Linked DNA regions of Homo sapiens: all the other regions are linked to region 2. The links come from fine-mapping of genetic effects on gene expression. A gene starts in region 2. Each other region holds a variant in brackets. All regions are shown on one strand. Distances are between the middles of the regions.

Region 1 (5,336 bases), 100 kb before region 2:
GTTGTCCACCAATCTTTTGGCTTTCCTGGGCCACACTGGAAGCACTGTCTTGAGCCACACATAAAATACACTAACGCTAATGATAGCTGATGAGCTTTTTAAAAATTGTAAAAAAAAAAATCTCATGTTTTAAGAAAGTTTATCAATTCGTGTTGGGCTGCATTCAAAGCCATCCAGTGCCCTGGGTTGGGCAAGCTTGCTCTAAGGCATTCCAACACTAAGAGGCTAGGAGAAAAGGAGAAAACTAATAATAATAATAAAAAGACTGAGTGAAGCATGAAGCTAAGTAAGGCTATGAGAAAAGCAAAAGAATGTATTGTCCTAGAAACTAAAAGTGCTTTAAGAAAAAAGAAATTCTTACCATTATATTACATCACATCATGTATTTGTTTATTTCATATCTCTCCAGCAGAATGTAAGTTCTCCAAGGGTATTAGGGACACTGTCTACTTGTTCACATCTATATACCTAGCATCTGGAACAGTGGTTGATATTTAGTATCAGTGAAATTAGTGAATGCAAACATCCTGTAGAGAAAATATATTCCTATAATACTATCACACATAAAATTGATATTAATCTTTTAATGGGTATTTATATATATACCCTAATATTTTTCCTTTTCCCTAACAGGTGGTTGCAAGAGAGATTACTATATTTGAATAGTTTATTTAACTTAGGATTTTCCTTTTCTGTTTTCATTGAATAGGTAGGAATTTATTGATAAGAGGACATAGAGAAGGCGGAAGGTATTCCAAACGGAAAAAGGTGCAGTTAAAATGGGGAAACGAATATTTCAGAAATAGTCAGAACTGACAAGACTTAGTGAAGAATGAATGTAGGATACAAAGGGAAAGATAAAATCTATGATGACTACCACTCCCACAGACAGCTATCCTAGATCCAGATCCGTATTATATTAGCTTTCTAGTATGTCCTTCTGCTGTAAGCCTTTCCTTTTCCTAATTTAGCCTATTTATTACAATGTATTTTATAGACAGTTTTAACAGAATAAAACTAATCTTGTTCCTTCATTAGTTTTCTCAAAACCTGATCCGGTTTCTTCTCAGTATCTGAATATGACACCTTATGGTATATGCCTTGTTTAACTTTTAACAGAGTATATATATTCACTGAGTGCAAAAGGAAGAATGTGAATTAGAAATGTTATAATAACAAATCATATTAAAACAAAATTAACCTTATTATTGAACAGAGAATTTACATTTTCTTGTCAATTATCTTCAATAAAAACAAAATATACAAACAAAAAAAAAACCTTCTCAAGTGAGAATTCTGTCCATCTTGCTTTACAGAACATCTGAAATTACATTAAAGCAAAAGGATACCACTAAGGAACTTGAAGCTACTTCTCTTTCCTGTAGATTATATGCCTACATGTCAAATTTGATAAACCATGTCACTCTAAGGTCCTTTTGATATTCAGAAATTGATTAACATATTATAAAATACTCCTAAATAGCAATGATTCATATGATTTATTTCAACATGTTATACAGTTAATGGCAGGTTTCTAACAGAAGCTATTTCTTGAAGTCTTCTTATGGGAAATTCTAGAATAAAAACTAATTTGAAGCATTTTCAAACATATTATAAATATGATCCACATGAATTTTCTATTAAATAAGTACAATGAGAACAGATAAAGATGCATAGAGAAGTTAAATAAATTATCTAAATTATTAAGCAAGACAATCAATTCATTTTCTAACTCAAAGGGGCATAACATGTCCATTCTTGTTTTTTCCACAATTATAAATTTAGTAATATAAAACAATGAATCAGTAATGACTGATTTCCTATATTTTCTTCACTTTAATCATTAAATGACATAGGCTAAGTATTGTGCTTAGAAAACTAGCAAAAAAAAAAGTTTTAGAAAAGAAAAAAAAACTAGTAATTTGCCTTTAAATCTAGGTTTCTTGCTATATTCTTTTACATCTGTTGCCAAGCACTTTTCCTGAAGGTAATTACCAGTAATTATCTTCTGTGATTGCTATGTGCATGTCACAGACATTATCATTACTCTAATTATAATACAGTTAGCCAAAGCTGAATTGTTAAATTTCAGTTCAATTAAATGTTTGTTTTGCAGACTATTTATAAATATGACAGATGCATATAGCTCAAAGATAATAATAAAATTTGATATACTTTTCAGAGGCTGATATAAAATATACAAAAACATTAAAAGGAACAAATTGGACAATT[C/T]TGTAAGGACTACAGCTGCTAAAAGGATATCAGGGCAGCTCGCTAGGATTTTAAAGATCTTCTGCCAAAATAACCAGTGAATAGCTCTTTCTATAACACTGAAATTAAAAACTGCTGAGAGTGAATATATTATAAAGTAATTTGAATTTATTTTGTGAGGAAAAAACAGAGGAATAAAAGTTATCTTTTTTGTTGTAAATTTTATTGTGATGAAATGTATATAACACAAAAGTTGCCATTTTAACTATTTTGAAAGTGTACCATTCAGCAGCATTAATTATATTCACAGTGCTGTAAAACCATCACCACTACCTATTTCCAAAAATTTTCATCACTGCAAATACAAACTCTAGCAATAACTCTCCATTTTCTTCTCCACTTTCTTCTCATCCAAAGCCTCTGGTCAACTCTAATCTACTTTCTGTCTCTATGGATTTGACAACTCTAGATATTTGATATAAGTGGAATCATACAATATTTGTCCTTTTGTGACTGGCTTTTGTTGATTAGCATAATGTTTTCAAGGTTTGTTTATATTATAGCATGTATCAGAACTCCATTCCTTTTTATGGCTGAGTAATAGTCCATTGTATGTTTATACTCACATATTGTTTACCCATTCATCTGTTGGACATTTGAGTTACTTTCTCCTTTTGGATATCATAAATAATGTAATGAACACTAGGCTACAAGTATCTGTTTGAGTCTCTGTTTTCAAATCTTCTGGGTATATACAGAGGAGATGAAGTGCTGGGTCATATGGTAATTCTATGTTTAACTTTTTAAGGAACTGCTAGGTTTTCACAGCAGCTGCACCATTTTACATTCCTACTAGCAGTGTACAAGGGTTCCAACTTCTCCACATCCTTGCCAATGCTTATTTTTCATCCTTTTGATTACAGTCTTCCTAGTAGCTGTGAAGTGGTATCTCAGTGAGTTTATTTGTATTTTAATGTTAACCATCTTTTTCATGTACTTATTTTCCATTTGCATATCTTCTTTGCAGAAATGACTATTCAAGTCCTCACCCATTATTTAATTTGGTGATTCGCCTTCTGTTGTTGAGTTGTAGGTAGTTTGCCTTCTGTTAGTGAGTTGTAGGAGTTCTTTATATATTCTGTGTATAGACCCTTAAAAGACATGTGATTTGCAAATATTTTCTCTCATTCTGTGGGTCGTCTTTCTTTCTCATAGATAGTATGCTTTGATGCACAAAAATTTTCAATTTTAATCAAATCCAATTTATCTTTTATTTTTGTATTGTTACCTGTGCCTTTGGTGTCATATTGAAGAATCCAGTGTCAAATCAAAGGTCACGAAGATTTTCCCCTATGTTTTCTTCTAAGAGTTTTACAGTTTTGGTTCTCAAATTTAGAGTCTTTGATCTGTTTTGAGTTAATTTTTGTAGATAATATAGAGTAAGGGTTCAACTTCATTATTTTTCACATGGCTATCCAGTTTTCTCAACACAACGTTGAAGAGAAAGAGTTCTGTTTTTTGGATTTGGTTTTGTTTTATTTTGTTTTTTGAGAGAGGGTCTCGCTCTGTCACCCAGGCTGGAGTGCAGTGGCACAATCTCGGTTCACTGCAACCTCCACCTCCTGGGTTCAAGTGACTCTCCTGCCTCCATGTCATCAATGTTGTACTTTTGATCATTTTAAGGCTGGCAATTCTCAAACTGTGATTTACTTTTCTGAGTATCCTTATACTGGCATGGAAAATGGGATTCTCTTTTTATTTAAAAATGTTTTTAAGCTAACATCAAAAGTAATAGATGTTCATAATCAAATCTGGATAGTAACAGTAAATGAAAAGGAGAAAATAAAAACACAAATTCAAAGAAAACCACACATAACACTTTGGTTTCTATTTCTATAGTGTTTCCTCTCCTTTTCTAAATATCTTTCTAGATATGTCATTTATCTATGTCAGGTATTCTAAAATATAACTTTTAATGGCTGCATAGTATACTATATCTGGACAGGCCAAAATGTATTTAACCAAATCCCTATTACAAGACGTTTAAAAACTGCCCTGTCCAATGTAGAAGCACTAGCTACAAGTAGCTAATTAAATGTAAGTTAATTAAATTAAAATTTAATATGTAATTCCACAACCATACTAGCAACATTTCAAGTGCTCCATGGTCACATGTGGCTAGTGACTACTGTATTGGATAATACAGATAATAGGATCTTTTCCTCATTACAGAAAGTTCTGTTAGATAGAACTGCTTTAGATTGCTTCCAAATTATCCCTATTATAAACAACCCCAAGATTATTGTAAATAAACTTTAATATATAGCTCTGAAAATTTATTTGGAATAAATTGCTGGAAATGAGTTGCTGGCTCAAAAAGCATACAAATATATACACTCTGGAGAGTGGGTACAGGAAGATGTTACCCCCATGCTGTTCTCTTGATAATGAGTGAGTTCTCACAAGATCTGATGGTTTTATAAGGGGCTTTTCCCCGCCTTGCTTGGCACTTCTCCTTCCTGCCACCATGTGAAGAAGGATGTGTTTGCTTCCCCTTCTGCCATGATTGTAAGTTTTCTGAGGCTTCCCCAGCCCTGTGGAACTGTGAGTCAATTAAACCTCTATCCTTTATAAATTACCCAGTCTCAGGCAGTTCTTTATAGCAGCATGAGAACAGACTAATACAGAGGTTAACAATAATATACAGGAAAACTGACATCTTTTTTTTGTAGTTTCTGTTTTACATGACATGCTTAGAAAAGGCTTTCCTGATTATATATTCAACCCTTTTTTTAGTACTTTTATGATTTCATCTTTTACATTTAAATAGTAATACCATATAGAATATACACTGGCATATAGTCTAAGACAGGAACTGAACATAATTTTTCATATACATTATTATATCATTATATTATCATAATATTCTCAAATCTCAATACAACTCACAGGGGTAAAGATTTATGATTGATAGAATTCATCCAAATTACTAAGTAGACATCCAATCCAGTCACTCTTATCTGAAATAAGAAAACTACGTTTTTACATTTTAGAAATGCAGCTCTCAGGGTTTTGTTTTTCCAGAAAATATCATTCCCACTCAGTCTAGGCATTAGAGCTTTTAT
Region 2 (5,000 bases):
ATTTTCAAGGAAAACTACTTTCACCGTTAATTTTTCAGTAACATATTTCACAGATCATATTAGTGTTTTCTTAAAGTCACAACAAGCAAAGTGCAAAATTAAAGAAACAAATACAGGAGTACAGTAGTCGAAAATGGCAAAAATTCCAAATTAACTTAGTTACAAAAGAATGGCATGAAACAATATTAGAAGTAACTACTCCATAAAATTCATCCAAAAGTCAAAGAACCATCACACAAGTAATGAATTAACTAGGTTGAGAAAAAAAGAAAAACCAGTTCTCATAAAACAGTGCATTTTCCCAAATATTTAATGTAGGCTTACACGTGAACCTAAGCTTTTTCGGTGCTTGACAAAAAGTTAAAACTATCATCAGATGGGAAATGAATTCAAGCACATGATTTTTTTTCCCACATACTCAAGAATTATTTTAAGAAACAAGGAAAAGATGGCAGGTTTAAGAAAAGTCAACTACTTTCCCAAACTCTTGAGTACAAATATAAAAATTATAAAAATTGTAACTAGAGCTCCCATTTTATCCTAGTTTGGCTATGCTCTCCCCAGAGCTCACTTTAGATTTAGTGATCTGAAAGAATGTGAACCCCTTAATCAACCAAATTCCAATAGTTGCTTGACACAGTCCATCTATTACATTAAAAGAGAGAGCAAAATTAAGTTTCACAAAAATAAATCTTGTCTACAAGCCTCACAAAGTGCAATAACTTAGGATTCAATACCTTTTAACTTAACTGATTTCATATACAGCACCAACACACATCCCCAAAAAAAGAACAAAAATCAGGATATTTTCACGTTAAGAAATGACAGGTATATTCTGCCCACGTTTGTCATCCTAAAAAGCTGACTCACTACTAAGCTTCAACTACAAGCCAGAAAACGAGAGCCCTCTGGGAGAGCACACCCAAAAGAGCTGTCAAGGTTCGATGCTTTGATTTCACATGGTGGCACAATGACTGACTCCAACACGTTATTAATAAATGCAGGCACAGCTTATGTCACCATTTCTTTAGGTTAAGTTTTCATACCTCCCTTCCCAGATGTCCACATTAGACACAACTCTGAACGCAAATGTTTTTCTTATATAAAACCGAAGAGAAGAACGACTTAGGTAGGACTCCAGTCCTACCAGTCTATGGACTCTACCATAGACTGGAGGTAGAGTCCCTCCAGTCTATGGTTTTATTCAGCCAGTCTTGAAGTAACAATACAATATTTATGACTCGAAAAATTACATTTTACTGCAAGAAAAAAAAAAGACAGATTCGATCCAATCACCGTACCTTGCTCTGCCAAATGTTAGTACCAGAACTTCTGAAATAAACAAACCTGTGTCTATGTTCATCGGGTCCATGGATCAGGAAGACTCCGGGGTTTTTAGCCCCTTTACCGGCATCTACATGTGGAATTAACACATCTTCTAAACCCAAATCAAAGCGTTTGTGTTTTGAAGAGTCTGGAAGGAAAAAGAATGCCCCAAAACACAGAGTGATGAAGGCACTAAGAATAAGGAGAAGAATAAACTTCTCAGAAAGTCTCAAGGTAGCCCTGTGATGTGGGAAGGAAGGCGGCCCCAGGTTCAGAGGTGGTATCCTACGTCCAGAGAGGGGCAGCAGGGCTGGGGTAGTCATCGTTTACGCTCTTGGAGAGAATACTTTAGAAAGTTCTCATCTTATGTCAAATGTAGAATACATTGAACTGTCTTCAAAATCTTGGCCAAAATGGGAAAACTCAATTTTGCTCCTCTTAAAGGACTGTTGTGCTTTTTAAGAGGGCACGTCATTCACGCCCATCCATTCCCACTCAGAAACGTGTGTGACCTCCCCCAAACGATCACAAGTTTAGGTCCTGCGATATCCTCTTCAACATCTGTACTTCATCGGATTATTACAAGCCTCCTCTTCATTCCTAGGGGTAGATCAGGCAAGCCACACTGCAGAAAAGCTGCAAGGTGGGTTCTTCCATTCCTGCACCTCAGTGAGATGCTCAAACGTAGTCTTCCGCCCCGAAAGGGAGACTGGCGACATCCGAGGAGTTGTAGAAGGTTCACTTGATCTCCTTCGACGCTTCTATTCCAGAATCTCTTAACCTTAGCGGTGGAAAAAATAAGGGTCTCCCACGGACGTCTGCAAACAGGGAGGAAGGTCTCCCACTTCGCTGGGAAGCCGAAGCAGCGGCGCTGGGCGAAGTAGCAGGAAGGAGTTCTCGGCCGCCCGCGCTTCCCGGCGCTGCCTGGCAGGAACCTGGCGCCCGGCTGAGTCCCGCTGCTGCCCACTCGACGGCTGGCGCGAAGGGCAATAGCGTCCGAAACACCTGAGTCCGGCCAGCCGCCGCGGCCGCCGCCGCTGTTGCTACCGCACGGGTCTGTCAGGGAGCGGAACTTCCTCCTCCGGCGGCCACTGAGAAGCCCCGGCGTGTCCTGGGGGAGGGGAGGCGCGGCGGCCGCCCCCGCCGAGCTCCTCCTCCTCCTCCTCCTCCTCTTCCTCCTCCTCCTCCTCCTCTCCGCGGCCGGTTCAGTGAACCCCGGCGCCTGCTCCCCGAGCTAGGCCGCCGGCCGCAGTGGCCGAGCCCTCGCGCCTAAGAAGCCGAGCCGGGGCCCACGCTCCGAGAGCCCGGGGTAGGCGCCGGCTCATTCCTCACTCAGCCCTGGAGCGGCGGGAGGGCCTGGGCGCGCGGGAGCAGCCGCGCCTCGGGCGGGCAGAGGTCGGCCGCGTCTCCTTCCTGCCCGGCCGCGGGGGCCTCCTCCGCGCCGCCTCCGGTGGCTCGCAGCTGCTGGCTCTGGCGGCGGCTGCCAGAGAGGCAGCGCGCCCACGCCGCTCGGGGCTGCGGCCCGGTCCCCGTACCCTGCCTCCCCAGGCCTGGTGAGCGCAGCAGCTGCTGGGCCGACACCCGTTGGGCTCACGCCGGAGAGGAACCGGAGGGCGGGGGCGATGGGACCCGGGCCGGCCTACCGGCCCCGGCTCGCGAGTGGGCGTCCCCGGGCGGCGGAGTGTGAGGTGCGCGCGCACGCTCCCGGCTCCGCTGCCGCCGCCCCTCCCCCACCCAGCCTGGCTGCCCGGGCTCCGGCCTCGCGCCGCTGCCGGCTCCAGCAGCCCGAAAGCGTACTGCTGCCGCCGCCGTCTGAGCGCGAAAGAAGAGAAGGTCGCCGATCTGCGCTGCCACGAGAACTTCACCGGTGCCCAGGGCCTTGCCACCGCCAGTTCGTGGGGTTGACCCAGCGTTTGGGCGAGAGGGAGCGAGGGGTTGGGTCGCGAAGGTTTCGCTGAAATGTAGTGTCACCGGAGTTAATGGCTTCTGATGGCTTAGGTTAACGTTTACTGTGATTCTTTGGAAGTCTTGTCTTCAGCGATAGACCGTCAGGCCCGAGGATTCAGCAACAGGGTCTCAAACTTCCACGCAGCAGCCCATGCTCACGTTATTGGGCCCCCGAGGCTCGATTAATAGAGCACCAACATGTGCCATGTTACGTTTTTAAAATAAAGTGGTGACCCTGCTCCTTCAGCTGGGCTTCCTTTCAGAGGAATCTAGGTACCCCCGATATGACAGGCGTCTCTTCATTGTTCAGTTTCTGGGGCACGTTCTATCATCTTCACACACCTCATCAACCCCCTTCCCATAAAAGAGAAAATGGATGAATAAGGAGGTGCTGAAACCCAAAAAGGCGACAATATTGTTTACGTTCAGGCTTAAAAACAATCTGAATCAATTCTGTTCTCCGTAGTATTGAGGAGAGCCATGTTGTGATTAAGTGCAAAAGATTTCCTTGCAAGATACATAGACTCTTGCATCCGATTTACTTGCAGGTTGTTTTTGTTCTAATATTGTCATTCCCTGTACACATCCTTTACTGATGACTGGGAATTGGAGAGGAGGCCCTTAAATGTCAGGAGAGTAAGTCAGCCTTAGCTTAAAAATCAAGCAGAAAAGTCTCATGTTCATTGGCACACTTGTAACTACATTCCAGTCTCCCAGTCTGCATTATTTCTAGAAGCTCTGCATATCTAACTGCCTACCACATGACAAAAGTCATTGTCATTGATCCTGCTTCACCAAATAAAAAGTAAAAATATTGAGGGCCACCTCTCACCAGTTCACCCAGGGAGACTGGTAAGCAAGGAGTGCCCGGTCCCTAGTGAGATTTATGTTGAACATTTGTGAAGAGTAGATATAAGAAACTTTTAGCCTTCCCAATATGTCTTTATAAAATGTGCCAAATTTAAGAATAAGTCTCTAATGTTGAGACTCCGTAAGCCAAAGTGGGGGGGGCGGTGGGGAGGCGGGGAAGAACACACTGTTTTCCTACTGTTGAGATCATTAGTTTCCATGAAAAGTTCAGGGGAAATAAATACTGAACTCTGAATGAAATAGCAAGTTATATAAATCTTGAAAAATAAATATTACCTAGGTTAACACTAGACTTAACCACAAGAGATTTCAATCATGAAACCTGACATAACCTAGTTGACAAGTATAGCTTAAGCAAGTAAGACCTCATTGCTGATGGAGAAGACCCCTTTTCCTTTGCTTGTCTGTTTTGCAAAATTCATTTTTCCTTCATGAGAGTAAAAACAATTTAGGGGTTATTGCAGATGTCCAAATGCAGCCAGCAATTTTAAAGTCATTGATGATACCGTCAGTTATCACACTCCTACACCAGCAATGAAAATACTGTATACATAGTATTACATATATCCACTCTTCTAAAGGCAAGTCTGAGTTTTTAAAGAATCATGTTGTTTAAAAAAAAAAAAGTTGCAAATGTATCCATTAATTATAATTATATGCACTTAAAAACATAGAAAAAGAATATTTGAAAAAGATTGCAACTATTCTGTTAAGATACTGGTTTTACGTATGATTTTCTCCATTGTATTCTGTTGCATTATATTTACAATTAAATAAAAATTATAAAGGAACTGGTGCCTGAAAAAGTTAAGGTCAAATTTCAAATAGGTAGACTCGGTAGTATCAAGATGAACACA
Region 3 (5,336 bases), 30 kb before region 2:
CCCCAACTCACCCACTCACTGTGCAAGCAGGCACACAGATTCAGAAAAACAGAGGACCTGGAAATGGGCCCCAAAGAAGAGCAACATCAAATGGGGAAGACTGGCTCTTTCAAGGGTAATTTTCTGTCCTGATGACAAATGGGGAGATTGCCCCAGGAAAACAAGCTTTCCATTTCTATCTCCACGTACCACATTATCCCCAAGTTATTGCTAAATGGCATGTGGAATCCCCGACCATGTTTGCAATAGCTCATATGTTATCACTCAGAAAGCATCTTCACCTACCAGTGAGCTTCCACGAACAGGTATTACACACCATTTTCTAGAGTCCACCCTGTGGGGGGCAAGACATATATGCCACAAAACATCCCATATCCCCTCACAGAGCTTCACCACGCACATGGGCATTTTAAAAGCCCTGAGAAGTTCTGCAATAGAGTTGCCTAACACAACACTTCTTGAACTTACTTAGTCATAGTCCTCCTTTTCTGCATACTCTTTTTAGCATGCGATGGAACCACAATAAGGAGGCTACCATCATGCCTCACCTAAACTACTGTAATACGCTTCCAATAGTCTTCACACATTCACTCTCCAACCACTCTCCAACCCACCCACAAGCTATTCTCCATCCATACTATAGACCCAATGTGCTTTCTGAAATTATTCAGACTATGCCTCACTCTCACTTAAAACACTTCATGGCTTCCCTTATCCTAAGGAATTCTATTATATTATGGCCTATTAAGAAATTCTGTATAATGTAGCTTCTATCTATCTCTCAAGCTTCATCTCATACATACTCCTCTAGCTCTCTGTTCTACAGCCACACACCTTCTTTCAGTTCTTTTTTTTTTTTTTGAAATAGAGTCTCCCTCTGTCACCCAGGCTGTAGTGCAGTGGCACGATCTCGGCTCACTGCAACCTCTGCCTCCCAGATTCAACAGAGTCTCCTGCTTCAGCCTCCCAACAAGCTGGGACTACAGGCACACGCCACCACGCCTGGCTAATTTTTTGTATTTTAGTAGAAACGGGGTTTCACCATGTTGCCCAGGCTGGTCATGAACTCCTGAGCTCAGGCAATCCACCCACCTCAGGCTCCCAAAGTGCTGGGATTACAGGCATGAGCCACCGTGCCCAGCCACCTTCTTTCAGTTCTTTTACACACCATTTTCTTTCCCATCAATAGCCCCATATGCATGAGGTTTCCTCGCTTAAAACACTCTTACAATTTCTTCTTTACCTTCAAGTCACTGATCAATCATAACTTCTCCTAGATTAGACAAATCTCCCTAATATACAGTCTGATGGCACCATGTATCTTTCCTTCATAGTACTTAACCACATGTGATTCTTTGAGTAATGCCTGTCTCTCCTGATGACTATTAACTCCATTAAGTTCAGAGACCCTATCTGATTTTTGTTCCAACATATCCCTCAATGCCTAGGACACTACCTGGCATATAATAGGTGTTTAAAAATACTAAAATGCAAATACAGATTCTAAGACCCCATCTGAAGTAAATATGATATACAAAGTCTATATACCATCATGAGGCTACAAACAGTCAAAAGAGTTGTAAGGCCGGGTGTGGTGGCTCACACCTGTAATCCCAGCACTTTGGGAGGCTAAGGCGGGTGGATCACGTGAGGTCAGGAGTTCGAGACCAGCCTGGCCAACATGGTGAAACCCCGTCTCTACTAAACATACAAAAATTAGCTGGGCATGGTGGTAGGTGCCTGTAATCCCAGCTACTCAGGAGGCTGAGGCAGGAGAATTGCTTGAACCTGGGAGGCGGAGGTTTCACTAAGCTGAGATCGTGACATTGCACTCCAGCCTGGGCCAACAAAAGCGAAACTACGTCTCCAAAAAAAAAAAAAAAAAAAAAGGGGGTTATAAACAGCGGCTCTGACTACAGGGTAGGCAATACAAATGCATATTAAATATTAAAATCCATATTAAAATTAATGACAAGGTGTTATGGTGAGACCCCTTAATAACACTGCCATGTAACAGTTTTCCATTTTCACTTACTATTGCTATTAACTTCGTGTTAGCATCAGTTGTTCCTCCACAGGTGCAAAGTACATTTGATAGCAACATGTATAATAATTTTTATAATTATTTTTAAAAATAAAAAATTGAGCCCTCTAAATGTTTGCTCTAAAGGAAAGCTCCAATCATCTTATCCCACTTGTTATTGTTACAGCAGTCAAACTTTGCTCATCAGAACCTATGTTGTTGCAATATTGTGAAGAGCCTTATTCAAACACATTTTGAAAATCTAAATAATCTATAGATTTATTTTTATTTGTTCCTCAACAAGCACTATTTGCTTAAGAGTTTAGTGAGTAAACTATTTCAGAAGAACCAATATCAACTAGAGGGCAAGAAAAGACTAACCAGACTGGTCCTAAGAGAAACTCCAGAGTTCCAGGAAATTCAGTCAGACCTCCTATTAACTGGGTTCCAAGAGGAATCATTTTGCAGTTAGAAAAAAAGTATACTTAACCCAAAAGTCAGGAGACAAAGATTTTAGTTCCATCTCTGCCCATGCCTCACACTACAACCTGGAACAATCACTAAAAAAAAAAAAAACCTCTATGATTAGTACCTTCATTAACAGAGATAGGAAAACATACACTACCCTGACTATACCACTTTAAAAGCACTATAACCCTTTTTTGCTAAGTACTTCCTTGTACTTACCTTGGAATCAAGTAAAAAGTAATGTTCTATACACATGTAAGTCAATAATTTCAATCCTTCTAACCTCTCTGTTCCAAATTACAAGTTAATGCAGCAATCTTTACAACTGCCAAAGCAAATAATGTGCTTTATTTCTTTTCCTTGAGTTTTCACAATAATTATTTAGTAGCACTATGAA[C/G]TTTCTTGCTAGTTTTCTTCTCTATATGACTCAAAATTTTATTTTCATTTTGATCTCCATGCAAATGGTTCCTCAAATTTTGCTTTGGCAGCCAAATTTCTAGATTTTTAAATTACTCCAGCTGGGGGTTTTATTTTCACTTGGATGATCTTTCTCTTATATACATATTTTTAAGATTGTTTTTAACTTTGGTATTTTCAACAGATAATTATGTTAGACTTTCATTTGTAAAGATCATTCCTTTTCATCAGTGTCTTGTATCTTCCTGTGTAGTAAAGAATTTGGCCTTGTCCAAAGAGAAGTCTCACCATTGACTTCAGCTTCTGGGAGGTAATGTGTCATAGTTGATAGAAGTGTGCTTGTTTATTATGGGTGCTGGCCATACCAGATCTTCAGGTAGGGTTGGCCACAACTAATAGTTTTAAAGCAAAAGCTGGCCATGTCATAAACACCAACAATATGGCTTAGGACAAGGCTCTGGGTTACACAGTATCAGTCCATTGGGAGACTGAGTTCAACCATACAGGTAATTGAGTAATCAATCAATGATGCCTACATAATGAAGCCCCATAAAACTCTATACACTGAAGCTTGGATGAGGTTACCAGGTTGGCAATCATGCATACTGTCACACATTGGTGCTGGAAGAACATGTCCTGACTCCATGGGAAAAGGACACTGGCAGATCAACATTTGGAACTTTCCTGACTTCACCCTATGTGTTTCTTCCCTTGGCTGATTTTAATCTGGATCCCTGTAATCTGTAATCCCTTTGTGAGTCCTTGCAAATTATCAAGCCAGAGGGTGGTCTGGGGAGCCCTCTGAATTTGCAAGTGGTGCCAGATGTGAGAGTGGTCATGTGAAGAACTGTGTCCTCAAACTTTGCAGTTTGGCTGAGTACCTTCCAAGGTTTCCAAAAAAATCTAGTTTTATATCTACAAGTTCTCATGAGATTTGAAGTTACTCTTTTCAATTGTATCTTAATGTGTAATATTTAATTAACTTTTGGATATCCCATAAGTAATATAAGGTTTTGTTTGTTGTTTTTGTTATATTATTTTGTTTTTTTGTGTTTTGTCCTTCAACACATCCCTGATCCTTGAAGAGCAAGGGCAAATGACAACAAAACTAGTAATTGTGGCTTAGATGTACAAGGCAATGGCTTCATCAATTACATATATTATCTTATTTAATTATCATACCAACTTATGAGGTACTCTCTATCAAACACCATTATTCTCTACCTTGTTATGAAAAAATTAAGGCACAAAGAGAAAAATAGTTTGTTCAGGGTCAAGGAGCTAGTAAGTAGAGTCTAGATATAAACAAATGCATTTTGACTTCTTAAACACTATGCAAATACTGAGAGAGATAAATTTTATTTAAGAGTTTTCTCACACTTACTGTGCAGATACTGAAAACTGTCTCCCAAAATCTTTTCTTTCTTCCTCCTTAGTCCTAGAGCCCTCAAGTTTTGGCTAGACCCATGATCCTGCTAAATAAAAACTCTATTTCTCAGCCTCTCTTATTGAAACTGTCCTGCAGAATTCATACGTGTGAACAGAAATTAACTTCTATCTTGCTTAAGCCGCTGTGGCTCTTGAATCATGTTTGGAAGCATTCTGGATGATTCTAATTTACATAGGGATACATAAAATTACGCTGGAATTTTGGTTGGCAGAAATTTTCCTTTATATTCACTCTTTCCTTCTCTACTGGAGCTTTAACCTTTACTTACAAATATGAAGTTTCACCCGTCCTTAAAAAATAAATAAAAACTCCCCTCAAAACTGCCTCCACTTCAACCTTCATTGGTGTTCTCCTTCCTTCACTTTACTTTTTCAAACAGTACTACACTTGCTGTTTCCACTTCCTACACTTTACATCACTCTTCTATCCACCACTGTTAAAAATTGATCCTTCCTTTGAAGCTCCCTCTTCCTCAAACCTGCTTTACCAACAGGCCTCTGATCATTGGCTTTATCATCTTCAATGTACCCTCAAAAGTACAGTGTTCCAGCCTTTTGGTCACTTCTGCTCTTACACTCATTCAGTAGAAACAGAAGAAGAAAGTGAATGGAGAAAAAGAGAACTTCTTCAACCTAATAAAAGATATCTCCAAAAACTACAGCAAATCACATTCTTGATAAACTACAAAAGTAATTCTCTCTCAAAGTGAGGGAAACAAGTAAGGATGCTCACTATCACGGCTTCAATTTGATTGTACTAGAAGTCCTAGCCAGCAACATAAAAAGAGAAAATGAAGGCCAGGCGCAGTGGCTCACCCCTGTAATCCCAGCACTTTGGGAGGCCGAGGCGGGCGGATCACGAGGTCAGGAGATTGAGACCATCCTGGCTAATACGGTGAAACCCCGTCTCTACTGAAAATACAAAAAAATTAGCCAGGCATGGTGGCGGGTGCCTGTAGTCCCAGCTACTCAGGAGGCT
Region 4 (5,336 bases), 39 kb after region 2:
AACAAAGATGCAGTCCTGGCTTCAGGGGCTAAAATCTGGATCTGAAAACCAAGGTTATAGCACTTCCATACTAAGCATAATGAAACACATAATACAATACAGCACAAACATAGTGCTTTGAAAACAGGTGGTAAGTAATAATTCCAGCTGGAGGATTAGGGAAACACTTTATGGAAGAGGGCTGTGTTTAAGCTGGACCTTAAAAGATAATACAATTTTTGATAGAGGGGAAAGGGGCAGCTTTCCATGCAAGGCAAAAAAGTACAAAATTGGGAAAATATTTGGCATGTTCCAGGACCGGAGCTTAATACAAGTGATGAAAGTGCAAGTCAGGCAGAAGAAAGAACATCTAGAAGGTCAACCCCAGTGACCTTGAATGTTCAGCTATGGTGTTTAAGACAACACACAGACTTGAAGGTTTTTGAGTTGCAGAATCACAGGCACAGGCCCATATGACTATATTATATTTATTTACTTATTATTTCTATTTATTATTCAGAAATCAGTGTGAAAGGTAGATTAGATGGGATCTGGTCACTCAGATTCTTCAAATCAGCCCTGACTGTCAAACAGGCCAAATGCTTTATTTTCTCATGGATTCTTTCAATTTTTGAAAGATTTTCAATATTACATTGGAAACAAATATAATATAATCATAATAGCTCATGAGAAAAGTCCAAACTCAGGAGTTGCAGAGAATAGGGAAAGAAGGAAGAGATTTAACAGTGAGAGGGGAGGACAGGGTCAGAGTAGTTGAAAGATCACTGGGCAGTTAGGCTGCTGATGATGTTGTTTTCTGAGGTCAGGAATTCATGAAGACAAATGGGATCAGTTTAGTTTGGGAAATGTTGACCTTAAGGATGTCTTTTGAACACTCAGTTGGAAATAGGCTATTGATGCCCAAGATGTTAGAGCAGGAGAAATGGAGATGTGTCAGCATTGCTCCATCATTAACAAGATCAATGTTGCTTTTCTAAGATGTTTACAGTCAACCTAATATGTGCATATCAGAATGGAAGCATCTCAGATCAATGAAGATAGGTGAATTGTTTAATAAACAGTGTTGGGAAAATTGGCTGGCTATTTGGTCAAAAAAATGTGGCACCCATCTCATACTGCACATAAAAATAAATCCCAGATGAATTAAATGTGGAATTGAAAACACAACAAAGAAAAGTATTTAGGTAAGGAATATACACACAGATAGACACACACAGACACACACGTATTGACAAAGATATACATAAACACATTTACATCTGAATTTATTTCCATATTTACATATATTTACTGAAATCCATGAGTTCACACTGGTATCTCCAATATCAATTCAACACCACAGTGTTCATTCTAGTTTTCTCCCTTTCCTTATTTCTAACTCTCTTCTACAACGAGAACCTTAGTTCCCATTATTTTTAATTTTTTTATTAGATCAAATCCCCTGTATATAGCCAATATCTTATCATCATTGCTGCCCCTGTCCCTGAGTAGAGCCCCCATCCCATCTGGGCTCTGACATCCCACACCAGGCCACCCATCTGAATGGATGTCTACCTTTCTCTGCTCCATACAATGGATTTAGGATGGAATTGCTCAGAAAGGAGAAGGGAAGAGAAAGAAGAAGGGAAGGGAAAGGAAAAGGAAGGGAAGGGAAAGGGAAGACACTTCCATTTTTTGTTTATTGATTTATTTGTTACAGAAAATAAATACCCCAAATTGCCAAAATCTACCATTTTATTTATATATATATATATATTTGATTCCATTTCATTCAAGTACCATAAAAAGTGTACTTTTTATGTTTAATCCATTCTGGGAAAAATGAAGAGGTATTTCCCAGAGCATCACTTCCACCCAGGAATTTATAATCTCATTGAAGAAGTTAAACAATGCATATTAATAACACAAACCAAAAATAAGCAGTTCAATAGAATAGTGGCATGAGCTAGCACTAGTTCCCTGGTTCTCATAGAACCAGGTAGATGAATACACATTTTCTGCAAGCCTGACTTATCTGGGGTTTGGCTCTGACAGAATAATCCTAGCCTGCTAGGGAAGGTTGAAGACTCACCCTTAATAAAATGCAAGCGGCCTAGAGCAAGGGTTCTTTCCAAATTATTGTAACCACTTCTTCTTGCCAATGGTTTTTTTGTTTGTTTGTTTTTGACATGGTCTTGCTCTGTTGCCCAGGTTGAAGTGCAGTGGCATGATCCCGGCTCACTGCAGCCTTGACTTCCTTGACCTCCTAGACTCAAGAAATCCTCCCACCTCAGCCTCCCAAGCAGCTGGGACCACAGCCAGGCACAACTATGCCCAGCTAATTTTTAAATGTTTGGAAAGACGGAGGTCTCACTTTGTTGCTCAGGCTGGTCTTGAACTCCTGAGCTCAAGCGATCCTCCTGCCTCAGCCTCCCAAAGTGTTGAAATTGTAGGCATGAGCCATTGCACCCAGCCCTTCCTTCCAATTGAATAAAAATTGCTACCATCCCATATAACACAGAGCAGAAAACCATCTGCAAATCTTAACGGATCATTGTCCCATTCCCAAGCAGGGCGGGGTCTGTGATTCCAAGCCCTCCACTGCTCACACGCCAAATGAGAACATGGGAAAATGA[A/G]CATGGGAACTGACAGTCTCCCCGCGAACGTGGGAACTGACAGTCTCCCCGTTCACTTTGTTACATAAGTGATACAAACTCTTTTTAGAAATTATACACAGGCAAAAGAGCAAACATCACACATAGTCTTACAACTTTTAGAGTAAATGCTTCCAGAATTTTTTTCTATGCATTTGTAAGGTAAGTTTTATAAATAATTGCTATGCATCAGTTTCCTCATCTGTAAAATGAAGATGATAATAATATCTGCCTCATTTGAGAGACTGAGGACAAAACATGAGTTTAAAAAAAGAGCGCTTCATATAGCACCTAGTGCATCTATAAAGGTAACACAATCTATATCTTTCTAGCACTTATCTGTCTAGATTCAGCTACATTTTTTTTTATAAAATAGATGGAAGTATTCATATTTCCTTGTAGTTTGCTTTTTTCACCTAAAGATATAGCATGATCTTCTTCCCTTGTGGGACAGTTCAAAAAGGGCAAAGAGACCGTTAGATCCTTTGAGTGACATTTTAAAGTGGAAAGTGGTGTGGGGAAATGGGCCCTAGTCCTTCAAGGGTATTATTTCGAGGTGATGAGCGAGGTTAGGGCAAAGCCTGCATCTACTACTTCTTGGACCTACAAGCTTAGGAATGCTGCTTGTATATACTCTCAGAGTCTGAGTGCCAGGCAAACCTTGAAGCTCAATCCTTTCCAATTTTGTTGTTGTTGTTGTGTAAGCAATAAAACCATGTTTCCCCCAACAAAATCTTATAAAGAACTCAACAAGTAAAACCATTCTGAAACATCAGAATACATTTATTTTATAAGCTTGAATGTATACTATTTGTTAATTGTAAGGCTTATCAATAAGATCAATAAGGCTGTTTGAGAAACAGAAACTGAAATCCAGGAATATGGATAACGATCACAGTCTTTGTCAACATCAGCTTCCATGAAATGGAATAAAACATTTGTGAAAATTTTGCAGTACCACTCTCATAGAATGAAGTACTAAAACTAGTGCCCCAACACCCTTATTTTACAGATGAGAAAATTAAGGGCCAGAGATATCGCATACTTTTTAAATATTAAGAGCACCAATAATAAAAATACTCTGATAACAGGAAGAAAATATTTTACTGAAGAAAGTATCTGGAATGGTTAATATGTATTTTCCACAAAATATGGTTCTTTTCCATTTAAATGATTGCCATATCATTCTCCAATTAATAAAATGGAAATGGTCAATTAACTTAGCTGCCATTTTTTGTTATTTTGCTTTAGTCTCATAGCTTGTAAGCCCTGAATTGTGCTGACTATGTAATTTGTATTTTATTCTGTTCCTGGATGTAAAGATTTACTGATTATCTCTAATAATTAAATTATGCATTTTAACTTATGACTCAGCATCCCACTTTCTACATATCAGCTGTTCTTGTCTATTAAATATCTATCTCATCATCTGTAATTTCAGTTCTTTTCTCATCATGAGGCTTGTCTGTAAAATTCAGGAAGCCACTATCTACAAACAGTCTCCTGCACTAATGAAACAAGGTCAAGCTTCGCTGACAGAAATTTAAAAGCTGACTCCAGATTTTACCCTGCCACTGCCTCCTTCCACATGGACAGTTGATGGACAACTCCTTAGTGTAGTTACAATTATTCCACCCTGTCTATATGAGGACCGACACACCCCTGACCTCCACATGGATCATAGTTTCTCAAAACTTTGCGTATATTTTGTCTTTTTAAAAAATATGATCCAAAGTCATGTTTTTAAAAATTATATTGTGAAATACACTATACATGCAAATAAATGTATCAGTGATGTTTATTTATTTATTTTTATTTTTATTTATTTATTTTTTTGAGATGGAGTCTCGCTCTGTCGCCCAGGCTGGAGTGCAGTGGCGTGATCTTGGCTCACTGCAAGCTCCGCCTCCCGGGTTCACGCCATTCTCCTATCTCAGCCTCCCGAGTAGCTGGGACTACAGGTGCCTGCCACCACGCCCGGCTAATTTTTTGTATTTTTAGTAGAGACAGGGTTTCATCATGCTAGCCAGGATGGTCTCGATCTCCTGACCTCGTGATCCGCCTGCCTCAGCCTCCCAAAGTGCTGGGATTACAGGCTTGAGCCACCACCCCTGGCCCCTTATTTTTATTTTTTGAGACAGAGTTTTGCTCTGTCACCCAGGCTGGAGTGCAGTGCACAATCTTGGCTCACTGCAACCTCTGCCTCCCAGGTTCAAGCGATTCTCCTGCGTCAGCCTCCTGAGTAGCTGGGATTACAGGCACGCACCCACGCCCAGCTAATTTTTGTATTTTTAGTAGAGATAAGGTTTTGCCATGTTGTCCAGGCTGGTCTTGAACTCCTGACCTCAGGTGATCCACACACCTTGGCTTCCCAAAGTGCTGAGATTACAAGCATGAGCCACCACGCCCAGCCTATTGAAGGTATTTATTTTAAAGTAATATATTCTTTTTGAAAATTAATAGTTTCATAAGATCATACTTGCTTATTGTAGACAGTTTAGAAAATATTTTAGAAGTATAAAAATACCTAATGACATGCTGAAAATCACTCATAAAAGAGTCTGCTCTTTGTTTTTCTCTCTTCCTACATATTTTGTGTCCTCCATTTTTCACTCAGGATTATAACAAGATTATTTTCTCACACATTAAATATTTTAAACAATCATGATGTCTAAAGGTATCTTAGGTATTTTAAACAATCAT

Evidence for each region. PIP is the estimated chance that this variant, and not a neighbour inherited with it, causes the effect.
Region 1: its variant is the best candidate, but not a certain one, in a credible set for the expression of MAN1A2 in unexposed skin (GTEx, PIP 0.80).
Region 3: its variant is the best candidate, but not a certain one, in a credible set for the expression of MAN1A2 in whole blood (INTERVAL, PIP 0.64).
Region 4: its variant is the best candidate, but not a certain one, in a credible set for the expression of MAN1A2 in whole blood (TOPMed, PIP 0.80).

Annotation. Positions count from the first base shown.
Region 1 is chr1:117,467,597-117,472,932 of GRCh38, reverse strand. All of the region lies in intron 8 of MAN1A2 (mannosidase alpha class 1A member 2), which reads right to left. Among named protein-coding and RNA genes, the nearest start is that of MAN1A2, 100 kb to the right of the region's middle. The variant C/T (reference allele first, on the strand shown) is at 2,233.
Region 2 is chr1:117,364,833-117,369,832 of GRCh38, reverse strand. It overlaps MAN1A2 (mannosidase alpha class 1A member 2), which reads right to left and starts at 2,384. Exons shown (of 13, transcript NM_006699.5): 1 at 1,348-2,384. The coding sequence starts at 1,649. RefSeq lists an enhancer at 1,319-1,458 and a silencer at 2,329-3,148.
Region 3 is chr1:117,394,199-117,399,534 of GRCh38, reverse strand. All of the region lies in intron 1 of MAN1A2 (mannosidase alpha class 1A member 2), which reads right to left. Among named protein-coding and RNA genes, the nearest start is that of MAN1A2, 29 kb to the right of the region's middle. The variant C/G (reference allele first, on the strand shown) is at 2,889.
Region 4 is chr1:117,325,788-117,331,123 of GRCh38, reverse strand. No RefSeq gene overlaps it. Among named protein-coding and RNA genes, the nearest start is that of LINC01525, 33 kb to the right of the region's middle. The variant A/G (reference allele first, on the strand shown) is at 2,616.